4 separate regions of the Homo sapiens genome follow, and regions 1, 2 and 3 are each linked to region 4. Evidence: fine-mapped expression QTL. A gene starts in region 4. Each other region holds a variant in brackets. All regions are shown on one strand. Distances are between the middles of the regions.

What was found. PIP is the estimated chance that this variant, and not a neighbour inherited with it, causes the effect. A credible set is the group of variants that fine-mapping cannot tell apart.
Region 1: its variant is the best candidate, but not a certain one, in a credible set for the expression of ATP5F1C in whole blood (INTERVAL, PIP 0.61).
Region 2: its variant is the best candidate, but not a certain one, in a credible set for the expression of ATP5F1C in subcutaneous fat (GTEx, PIP 0.66).
Region 3: its variant is the best candidate, but not a certain one, in a credible set for the expression of ATP5F1C in atrial appendage (GTEx, PIP 0.64).

Annotation. Positions count from the first base shown.
Region 1 is chr10:7,810,829-7,813,590 of GRCh38, reverse strand. All of the region lies in intron 1 of LOC105376392 (a long non-coding RNA gene), which reads left to right. Among named protein-coding and RNA genes, the nearest start is that of TAF3, 6.3 kb to the left of the region's middle. The variant C/T (reference allele first, on the strand shown) is at 1,104.
Region 2 is chr10:7,856,981-7,859,480 of GRCh38, reverse strand. The region is part of intron 2 of TAF3 (TATA-box binding protein associated factor 3); the gene reads right to left. Among named protein-coding and RNA genes, the nearest start is that of TAF3, 40 kb to the right of the region's middle. The variant C/T (reference allele first, on the strand shown) is at 1,439.
Region 3 is chr10:7,826,646-7,829,407 of GRCh38, reverse strand. All of the region lies in intron 2 of TAF3 (TATA-box binding protein associated factor 3), which reads right to left. Among named protein-coding and RNA genes, the nearest start is that of TAF3, 9.5 kb to the right of the region's middle. The variant T/C (reference allele first, on the strand shown) is at 1,557.
Region 4 is chr10:7,787,035-7,789,534 of GRCh38, reverse strand. ATP5F1C (ATP synthase F1 subunit gamma) reads right to left here and starts at 1,358. Exons shown (of 10, transcript NM_001001973.3): 1 at 1,272-1,358. The coding sequence starts at 1,327. KIN (Kin17 DNA and RNA binding protein) reads left to right here and starts at 1,542. Exons shown (of 13, transcript NM_012311.4): 1 at 1,542-1,715. The coding sequence starts at 1,602. RefSeq lists enhancers at 274-817, 1,270-1,589.

The sequences.
Region 1 (2,762 bases), 24 kb before region 4:
CTCCAAAATCCCATCTTGCATCTGCTCTTTCAGACCTCTCCGGCACCAAATGTCCCAAGCTGGACTCCCCAGGAGGCTGTCTCTGAGATGAAGATTAACCTCAGAGGAGGGCTCTTGGGGTCACCGCCTGGCAGAGAGAAGAGGAGGGCAGGCAGGAAGCAGGACTAGGGAAGGGCAGTGTTGAGAAGGGAGGGGCTTGGGGAGGGGAAGGGATGGGGAGAGGTTGAGGAGGAAAGGTGGAAGGGAGAGGAAGGGGGATGGGAAAGGGGGGGACGGGAAAGGGGAGAGAGCAGGACTGGGATAGGGAGACATTGGGCTCCAGCTCACAAAGGCCTCAGTCAAGCCCACAGAGAGCTGTAAGGCTGGAATGGCCCTTTGCAGTGTCCTGAGCCAGGCAGGGGGTCTTTATACTCTCATACTGATCAGACACTGGATGTAGGTGCTTCCGGAGGGGGCCATGACCTTGGGCAAGGTGATCTCCAGCTGAGGCAATTCCAACGAGGGTTGGCAGCTGGGGGCTGTGTGCTTCCACCATTCCCAGTGGAAGGTCCTTCTGAAGGGGGATCTGGATGGTGCATCACAGCTCCCACCTCCCCATAATACCATGATCACACTCAGCAAACTAAGATTGACACAATAATATCCCACAAAATAAAGTGCGTGTTCAGATTTTCCCATTGTCCCCAAATGCCTTTTATGGCTTTACATTTTATTTATTTATTTATTTATTTTTTGAGACGGAGTTTTGCTCTTGTTGCCCAGGCTGGAGTGCAATGGCGAGATCTTGGCTCACTGCAACCTCCGCCTCTCGGGTTCAAGCGATTCTCCTGTCTCAGCCTCCCAAGTAGCTGGGATTATAGGCGTGCACCACCACACCTGGCTAATTTTTGTCTTTTTAGTAGAGATGGGGTTTCACCATGTTGGCCGGGCTGGTCTGTAACTCCCACCTGCCTTGGCCTCTCAAAGTTTTGGGATTACAAGGCATGAGCCACTGCACCCAGCACGGATTCTTTTCTTTAGCTGGTGTGTCATGATCCATTACCTTCGTGATTCTCTTGCTGCTTAAATTGTCCCGTATTTGGCCAGTGGGAGCCCTTTCCAGC[C/T]GGCCACTGTATTCTTGTACTGTGTCACCATCATTCATGGAGGACTTGCTATTTGGTGCCACTAGATTTTCCAGGCTCACCTTGTGCTTCTCTTGCTCTAAGCTTGGAAGTAGACATCTCTCTGAGGAGCCCTGGTTCTTCTTAGAAAGGAATATTATTTAGAACCCAGACGTGTGCTAGCTGACCTTCATTACTACAGGGAAATCATTGCTTCAGGGCCCTTGTAGTGGAAAGAACTAAAAAATATGTATCTTTTTTTTTTTTGAGACGGAGTCTTGCTCTGTCACCCAGGCTGGAGTGCAATGGCTGGTCTCGGCTCACCGCAACCTCTGCCTCCCGTGTTCAAGCGATTCTCCTGCCTCAGTCTCCCGAGTAGCTGGGATTACAGGTGCACGACCTTGCCCGGCTAATTTTTTGTATTTTTAGTACAGATGGGGTTTCACCATGTTGGCCAGGCTGGTCTCTAACTCCTGACCTCAGGTGATCCGCCCACCTCGGCCTCCTAAAGTGCTGGGATTACAGGCGTGACCCACTGCACCCAGCAATATGTGTACTTTTGAAGTGCAAAGTACACACAGATGCCTCTAATTCAAGTCTAAAATTACATATCCCTTTTCTCCTCCCATGTCCTATTTGCATATCCTGTCTCTCCCAAAGTGAGAAACCTGGCTTCAATATCAAAGATTTGACTTATCCTGCAATGTCTTTGCCTTTTATTACTTTTTTTGTTTGTTTGCTTGTTTTGTTGAGACAGAGTCTTGCTCTGTCACCCAAGCTGGAGTGAAGTGGTACGATCTCAGCTCACTGCAACCTCTGCCTCGCAGGTTCAAGTGATTCTCCTGCCTCAGCCTCCCAAAAAGCTGGGATTACAGGCATGCACCATCATGCCTGGTCACAGCTCACTGCAGCCTCGACCTCCCAGGTTCAAGCAATCTTTCTACCTCAGGCTCCTGAGTAGCTGGGACCACAGGCACATGTCACCATGCCTGGCTCATTTTTGTCTTTTTTGTAGAGATGGGTTTTGCTATGTGGCCGAGGCTAGTCTCAAACCGCTGGGCTCAAGCAATTTGCCCACCTCGGCCTCCCAAACTGCTGGGATTACAGGCATGAGCCACTACGCCTGGCAGCTTTTGTCTGCTTTTACAGTGTTCTCTTTTCATAGGATTCACCTCAGTGATTTCATCATTAGCTGTGTAAAGATGACTCCTTAATATAACACTTTATCTTGGATTGTTCCTGAGTGCTATACTAGCGTAGCTAACTGCATCTAATGACTAATGTCTGCTTGGATGTCCAATATATCACTCAAATGTAATTAATGTTTGAGGGATGTCCGAAACTAAAATCATTCCATTCTTTGCTGTATACTTTGCGGGGGTAGAGGCAGGATCTGTGTTCGTCTCATTCACTAGTAAATAGTACCTAGCAGTTAGTCATATTTCAGTAATGCCTTTTAGCACAATTCATCTTGCAATGATATAGAGAGTGGATTAGAGCACAACTCTGAATATATGAAAAACCACTGAGTGGTAGAATTTAGAAGGGTGAATTTCATGGCATGTGGATGATGTCTCAGTGAAGCCACTCTTTGAAGAGAGTAACTAGAAGTGAACAGTGGAGGCCAGGAATCAGGAACCTGTTCAAGAGCAGGAGTGGCAG
Region 2 (2,500 bases), 70 kb before region 4:
GAATATGGGTCCCTACTATTCTCCCCCAATCTGGAATGGACTGAAGAAAAGGCCCATGTCAGATGATTTCAGAAATCCCCGCTGCCCTCCTGAAACTCAGAATCCACATGGCAGGATCTGAAGGCAGGATGTGTATATGTAGAAGAGGCATCACACTTCTCTTTTATTTATTTATTTATTTATTTATTTATTTATTTATTTATTTATTTATTTATTTATTGAGATGGAGTCTCACTCTGTCGCCCAGGCTGGAGTGCAATGGCATGATCTCAGCTCACTGCAAGATCCGCCTCCTGGGTTCACGCCATTCTCCTGCCTCAGCCTCCCGAGTAACTGGGACTACAGGTGCCCACCACACGCCCAGCTAATTTTTTGTATTTTTAGTAGAGACGGGGTTTCACCGTGTTAGCCAGGATGGTCTCGATCTCCTGACCTCGTGATCTGCCCGCCTCAGCCTCCCAAAGTGCTGGGATTACAGGCGTGAGCCACCACACTTTTCAATAAGGTGTTCTAGAAAGGCCTCGACAAGATGACATATGAATAGAGCCCAGAAGACGCTGAAGAGGCCAGCAGTAATGGAGGAGGATACATTCACATGTTCATATGCACACACGCACACTCACACGTACATTCAGTGACATGCAGGCGCGCGCACACACACACACACACACACAGAGCCTATAATGTACCAGTGAAATCTGATGATGATAATGTTGACATTAAAATAATTCATAGCTGCTAACATGTGCTAAGCATGTGAATATGTCCCGGCCACGGTTCTAAGCATGTTATACACATTAAACTCACTGCAATCCTAAAATAAGTTCTCATTAACAGTAGATATATTGACAGGCAGAACACACAAAAAGACTGAACTTAGTTAATAATCTAAGACAATTTTCAACATGACACAGATACGAACTTGCCAATCAATGACATTTTTCTGCCTCCCAGTTCAGAAAGTACCTAATCAGTAAGATCCGGAACTAGTGAAAAAACAGTTAAGTATAGATGCAAGAACAACCCCTGCTAATGATCATAATTGTAGCCTAGCTGACATAAACGATTGTATCATCCAGGAGGTTCTAAAGGATCAAGCGCCAGGAAGAAAAACTAAACATACAATTCAGGAACAGAACCAGAATCCAAGTCCAAATGATACAATATTACTGGCAATTGCTTGTAACATCACTCACTTCTTTGATGACCTGCAGACCAGTGGCTTTAGAATAAAGAGGAGGATCTTATATTCTATCACAAAAATTCTCTGGGAAAAGACAGTGATTCTTAACAGCCAGGCCAATCGTTATTTTGATTATATATTTTGAACTACATCCCATAGTTCTTTTACTATGGGATATAAGAGGAAGCAATATGATTTCATGTCCCTATTTGTAACAAAACAGAGCCCAAATGTTAATATTCTACTGAGGCCGTT[C/T]AAACCTCTTTGTAAGCTGTCAACTCCATAAATCCTCAAATTCCACTCTCCCCTACTCCTACCTCCCCCAGATAATTCAGCTGGCAAAGTTTCTGAGAAATCCCTAAGGTTAGCAGAAAAAAAAAAAAAAAATCAGAAATGTTGAAAAGAACCCTGGGGTGTGATATAGCTGAAAATCAAGAGAGTTTCTTCCCAATGAATTTAGAAAGCTAATAGTACTTTCATAACTTCTCTAATTTTCCCCTGCCTTTTTCTTTCTTAACAAAAACATCACTTAAGATACTGAGGTAAATAATCACATAAAAAAGCTGACAGAAAGCTAAGAGCTTTTCTTAGATATTTATACCCGTGTGAAAGAAAAAAGTCATTATTTCCCTCAAATCAAAATACAATTACCCTTTCATGAAATAACTCACAAACAGGATGAAGAATGCAAGCAACATAAAATCAAAATGCCCTTTAAAACATTAGAACAAGTCTGAGTAGAGGCTTGTGACATCCACAAATGATACACTACCCAGTGTCCACCTCCACACTCCGAAGACTGTGTGGCACCAATTCCCTTCCTCTCTGGGGGTACCCATGGCTACTCTGTAGGCGTCCTGCCAACTTCTCCTCCAGCTCCAGAGAACTTTCTCCCGGACAGACTGTTTAAGGGGGCAGTGGGAAGAAACTGCTCTAACTTGCTAATCGGATAAAACTATGTACCTGTGATAGGGAAGGCAAAGTTTCAGAAATGTTGAAAATGTAGATTACATTTATAAGTGAGCTGTGGCTGTTCCATTGTGAAGAACACAAACAGCTGAGGAAATATTCTTCCAGTATTCAGAAACTAGTATCCAATTCAGCAAAAAAGTCACTCATATCATTAAGCAAGGAGGGAGGTTTTGACATTCGTATGTGTTGTTTCACTTTTGTCTTCCTCATTAACATAAAGGAAAATATCAACCAACATTCACGTTGGAACTATATTCATCTGTCAGTTGTAACAGTGGTTTGCTTACGGACATGAAAGTTGGGAAAATTAACAAAAGCATTCTCTGAGAATCAGTTGGCTACATG
Region 3 (2,762 bases), 40 kb before region 4:
ATCCTGGATGGGATCCAGAAACAGAAAAAGGACATCCAGTAAAAACTAAGGAATGTCAATACAGTGCGGGCGTCACTTAATAATAACATGTCAATATTGTTCATTAATTGTGATACACGTACCATAGTCACGTAAAAGGTTAATAACAGAAGAAATGGTTCAGATGTGAGTGAACTCTCCAAACTAACTTCTCAATTTTTTCTGTAAATCAAAACTGTTCTAAAAAATAGTCTATTTTAAATTTTAAAAAATAGAAACTCTAAAAGTGGCAACCTCACAGTATCTTTACCAAGTTTAAGTTGAGCTTGGTAAGTTTCCTGCAATAAGTCAGGGTACATGGTTTATATTCCTTTTTTTTTTTTTTTTTTTTTTTTTTTTGAGACGGAGTCTCACTCTGTCACCCAGGCTGGAGTGCAGTGGCACGATCTCGGCTGACTGCAACCTCTGCCTCCCGGATTCAAGTGATTCTCCCATCTCAGCCTCCCGAGTAGCTGGGACTACAGGCACCACCACACCCAGCTAATTTTTGTATTTTCAGTAGAGGCAGGGTTTCACCATGTTGGCCAGGCTCGTCTTGAACTCCTGACCTCAAGTGATCCGCCCACCTCGGCCTCCCAAAGTGCTGGGATTACAGGTGTGAGCCACTGCGCCCAGCCTATATTTCTTTCTTATGCAAATATTTTGAACCAATCAACAGACCCCCCCAGAAGACCCCCATTGACCAGTGATCTAGAGACCACACTGTGAGAACCAACAATGACTTTGGCATAGTACGCTGTACTATTTTCAGACATTCCTCAGCACAATAAAATAGGAAGCAAAAAAATATGGTATTGGTGTGAATCTGAAAATATGTATGGCAAGCTGGGGAGAGAATGTTCTTGGATAAAACACACTGGGTACCAGCCATCAGAACTGTAACAGTCCAAGCAAAAATATGCATGTATAAAATATTTTCAAAGAGGTCTCACTTCTAAACATATAATCAGATAAAGCAGGCAATAACTCCTTCCACATCATCTCCTCATCTGTCATCTTCACACTGCGGATAATCACACAGCTCCTCAGTCAAGTACCTATCCAGCCCAGCTAGTAAGTCTGTTCCCTCAGATCCTCAGCACGTGATGGTAACACTACTTTACATTGATTCGTCTCTTTTTTTCAGAGACAGGGTCCTGCTATGTTGCCCAGGCTGAAGTGCAGTGGGCATTCACAGGCTCAATCATTGCGCACTACAGCCTCAAACTCCTGGGCTCAAGCGATCTTCCTGCCTTGGCCTTCCAAGTAGCTAGGACTATGGGTGTGCCACTGAATGCAGCTTGACACCGATTCCCCTTATAGCGTGACTTCACTAATGTATATTGTATTTCAATTCAAAAGTAAATTATTTAAGAGCAAGAAAAGAAAAAGGGGACGAGAACTAATATTCGCTGTCATGTGTTTTATTTTTTTTTGAGACAGGGTCTCGCTGTCACTCAGGCTGGAGTGCTGTGGTGTGATCATAGCTCACTGCAGCCTTGACCCCTGGGCTCAACTGATCCTCCCACCACAGACTC[T/C]GATAGCTGGGACTACAAGCGTGCACCACCATGCCCAGCTAAGTTTTTGTTTTTGTTTTTTTTTTTTTTTTTGAGACAGAGTCTCGCTCCGTCACCCAGGCTGGAGTACAGTGGCACAATCTCGGCTCACTGCAAGCTCCACCTCCTCTGTTCACGCCATTCTCCTGCCTCAGCCTCCCGAGTAGCTGGGACTACAGGCACCCGCCACCACGCCCAGCTAATATTTGTATCTTTAGTAGAGACGGGGTTTCACTGTGTTAGCCAGGATGGTCTCGATCTCCTGACCTCGTGATCCGCCCGTCTCCGCCTCCCAAAGTGCTGGGATTACAGGCGTGAGCCACTGCGCCCAGCCAAGTTTTTTATTTTTAGTAGAGATGAGGTCTCATGACGTTGCCCAGGCTGGTATCAAACTCCTGGGCTCAAGCTTCAGCCTCCCAAAGTGCATAAGCCATCACACCTGGCCCACTGTTATGTATTTTATATGTTAAACACTGTCCAATTTTATATAAATGTGTTAACAAAAAAAAATTACTTGATTCTCCATTTCCCCAATGTGGTAGGTGTTATTACACTTATTTTACAGATGAATATAAAGTTCAGAAAGGTAAAGTGACTTGGGAAGACCAGAAACTCAGTGACTCGCTGAGTCATGTCTCAGTGATGCCGTGAGGTCCACGCTGTGCCTCTCACAGCCTGCTGCCCCTTCAGGCCTTCTATGTGTGCACACTCGCCAGCTCCAGCTGCTGTGGAGGGAGACTTTCACAGGCTTTTTTGACATGAACCAAGCTGAGTGGCTGATAAGAGGGAACCCCATGGAAGGACCTTGCTAATAATATTTTAAGACCAAAGTCTGGCCTGTCTGTGGCTCTTAAGGAAATAAAAGGAAAATAAAGAGCATGGTGAACAGCATCATTATCAAAGGGGTTCACCTCTGTACCTCACTTTGCACCACTAATCAGAATACCAGGAACTTTCTAACATGCTGTACCCATGAAAAAAAAATATTTCAGATTGTAAATGACAAGAAATGGTCTTGTATGGTTATATTTTTAAATGGTAACCAAAGAATTGCATTTTATATCCTTTTCTTATGAAGAGGAGAACGTTTTGACAAGCATCTTACTGTACTGCCTACCACTTACTGCATCCTTATAAACCATATGCATATATTACAAATCAGCAATATTTTTCCTTCTTAATCCACAT
Region 4 (2,500 bases):
AACAAGTGGGACAATCTATACAACTGAGAATTCAACTACAGTGACCTTTTAATTCCCATGAATGTTCTTTTTCCATATTAGAGAAAAAAAAATCTGACTTCCAAGGCCAAGCCACCAAAAATTTTATGTGGCTAATTCACATCAGATATCATTCTGAAAATCTCGTATATTACTATCAGTTATTTGCTTAATGAAAAACCTATTTATTTCAACTAATGCTTTATGGTCCCTTCATATAAATTAGGATACGAAAATCTAGTTTAGCACTGTAGCGCCTTAGAAATCCTCCACACTGTTAAGAGCAGGGAATTGCTACGACACAGCCTAGAATCCCCTTAGCAGCGTGTCTGGAATTCTTCCAGATTCCGTCAAGCTTCAAAACTGAACAGCACCACCCACAAACCAACTTTTACCTGCCCATTCCCGGGCCTTCTAATATGCACTTCCCCCAGCCCAGGTCCCCCTACCCGGAACTAATGTTTAAAATTCTCGAGGCTCGTGGCACCCTTTAGTTGCATGTCAGTTAACAAATGCCACTTAAAAGCCCACCGAACTCCTCCCCCAGGACCTGGGGGCAATTTCATGACCTTGCAGGGTTACGGTTTCAGCAAGTGGTTTCAAGGTAGTGCTAGGTGTCCTTCCCTTCCCCGCCCTCAGACAGATCTGTACGGTCCCTTCTGCACCAAAACCACCCTCAGAGGCATCTAGGATGTTCGCCTTTGCTGTTGCAGCACCCAGCAAAGCGTCTGCAACACGGGAGGTGCTCGACGGCCGCGCTCTCTGACTCGATCGAATCTTAAAGGGTCACTCTGTCCAGCACTACAGGGTTTCAAAGGGCGTCAAGGACAAAAAGCACGACTTAACCTTCCCCTGGGCTATTGCTCAGGCTCCCGTCACCTTGCAGGCCCTGAGACTGGGGGCCTGGCTTGCAGTGGAAGTGGAAGCTCAGGAAGTGCTGATTAGCTGAGGGAACTCAAGACCGCCCAGACGTCAATTTGGACTCAGGCCGCAGTCCCGAGGTCCCAGGTGGCCCTCCGACCTCAGGGAACCGGGCGGGACCTTGCTCCGCCGGAGCCCGGCCCTGCGCACACCTTGCCCGACCTCAGAGCCGCTTCCTGCAGCCCCCGCTACCCGGCGCCTCCGACGGGCCAGGGGCCCAGCTAGGCCCTGCGACCCCACATCTGCCCCCGCGCCCATCTCCTCCTCCCTGCCCCGTGCCCAAGCTCTTCCATCCCTTGCGGTCCTGCCGATCTTCCCGCAAGCTGCCATACCATTGCGGCTGCAAGGTCCAGGCCGACAGCCCAGCGACACCCGCGCGAGAGAACATGGTAGCCACAGCCCTGCTGAAGGTCGGTCAGGCAGGCCTCAGCGCGCATGCGCCGAAGCTCCCCAGCGCGCCCCTCCCACCTTGCTCTCTTCTTCAGTCTCGTTTCTTCGCGCTACGGCGAGGGGAGTCTCGCGACCGTTGCAACCCAGTCTTCCCAGGCCCCACCTCCTTCCGCCTCTCAGCTGGGATTTGTCCCGCCCACCGCCGCCAGCCCGGTTCCGTTTCCGGCTGGCTGAGTACTGGGGTCCAGAAAGTGATCGCTGCCGTGGTCGCCATGGGGAAGTCGGATTTTCTTACTCCCAAGGCTATCGCCAACAGGATCAAGTCCAAGGGGCTGCAGAAGCTACGCTGGTATTGCCAGATGTGCCAGAAGCAGTGCCGGGACGAGGTGAGTGGGCCCGGAGTGGCCCCGTCTTCCCAGGAGGGCCCCTGGCAATCCAGGATCAGGTCCTGGACGCGGGGCTGAGGGCGCGGGGCTGGGGCTCCCGGGGTCCGGGTCGTGAGGCTTCTGAGGTCTGCAGTGGGCGAGTCAACTACTCAGCGCACGAGAGCCGTCCCTCCCCGCAGCCCCCGGGCCCAGCGGGCAGCCTGTGTTCTGCGACCCCTCATTCCTCCCCAGTCCGATCCCCACCACCAAAGAAATGAAATCAGAAAAGGTTTTGCACCCCTCACAGGGGCGGGGATACTGCAATACTAGACGCCCGGGCAATGCCAGTAACAGTCATCAGCTCTTACTTGACTTGACTCTTAAGAGAAACAGGGTGGTTAGGATTCACTCCTCTTTTGGGATCAGGTGAAAAAGGAGAGCTAAGCTCTTCCACACTACTCATCTAGCAAGCATTTATTGAGCACCTACACTGTACCGGGCACAGAATAATATTGTGGTTAAAATTATGGATTTATCTGGTTTATGGATATATCAGACTGTCAAAATTTAAAGTCAAGCAGGGCCACTTACCAACCGTGTGGTCTTGGGCAAGTTATTTACTTATATTCCCCTTTACTTATCTGTAAAGAGGGAATAATAATTTCACCTACTTGTAGGATTGTCGCTGAGTTTTAAATGAGTGAAGTATATATAGAGTGGCTCAAGGAGTCTGGGCAGATCTCGAAAAGCCTTATATGGCTACACTATGGAATTTACACTTTTCCCCATTAAAGAGGTGGTTGATT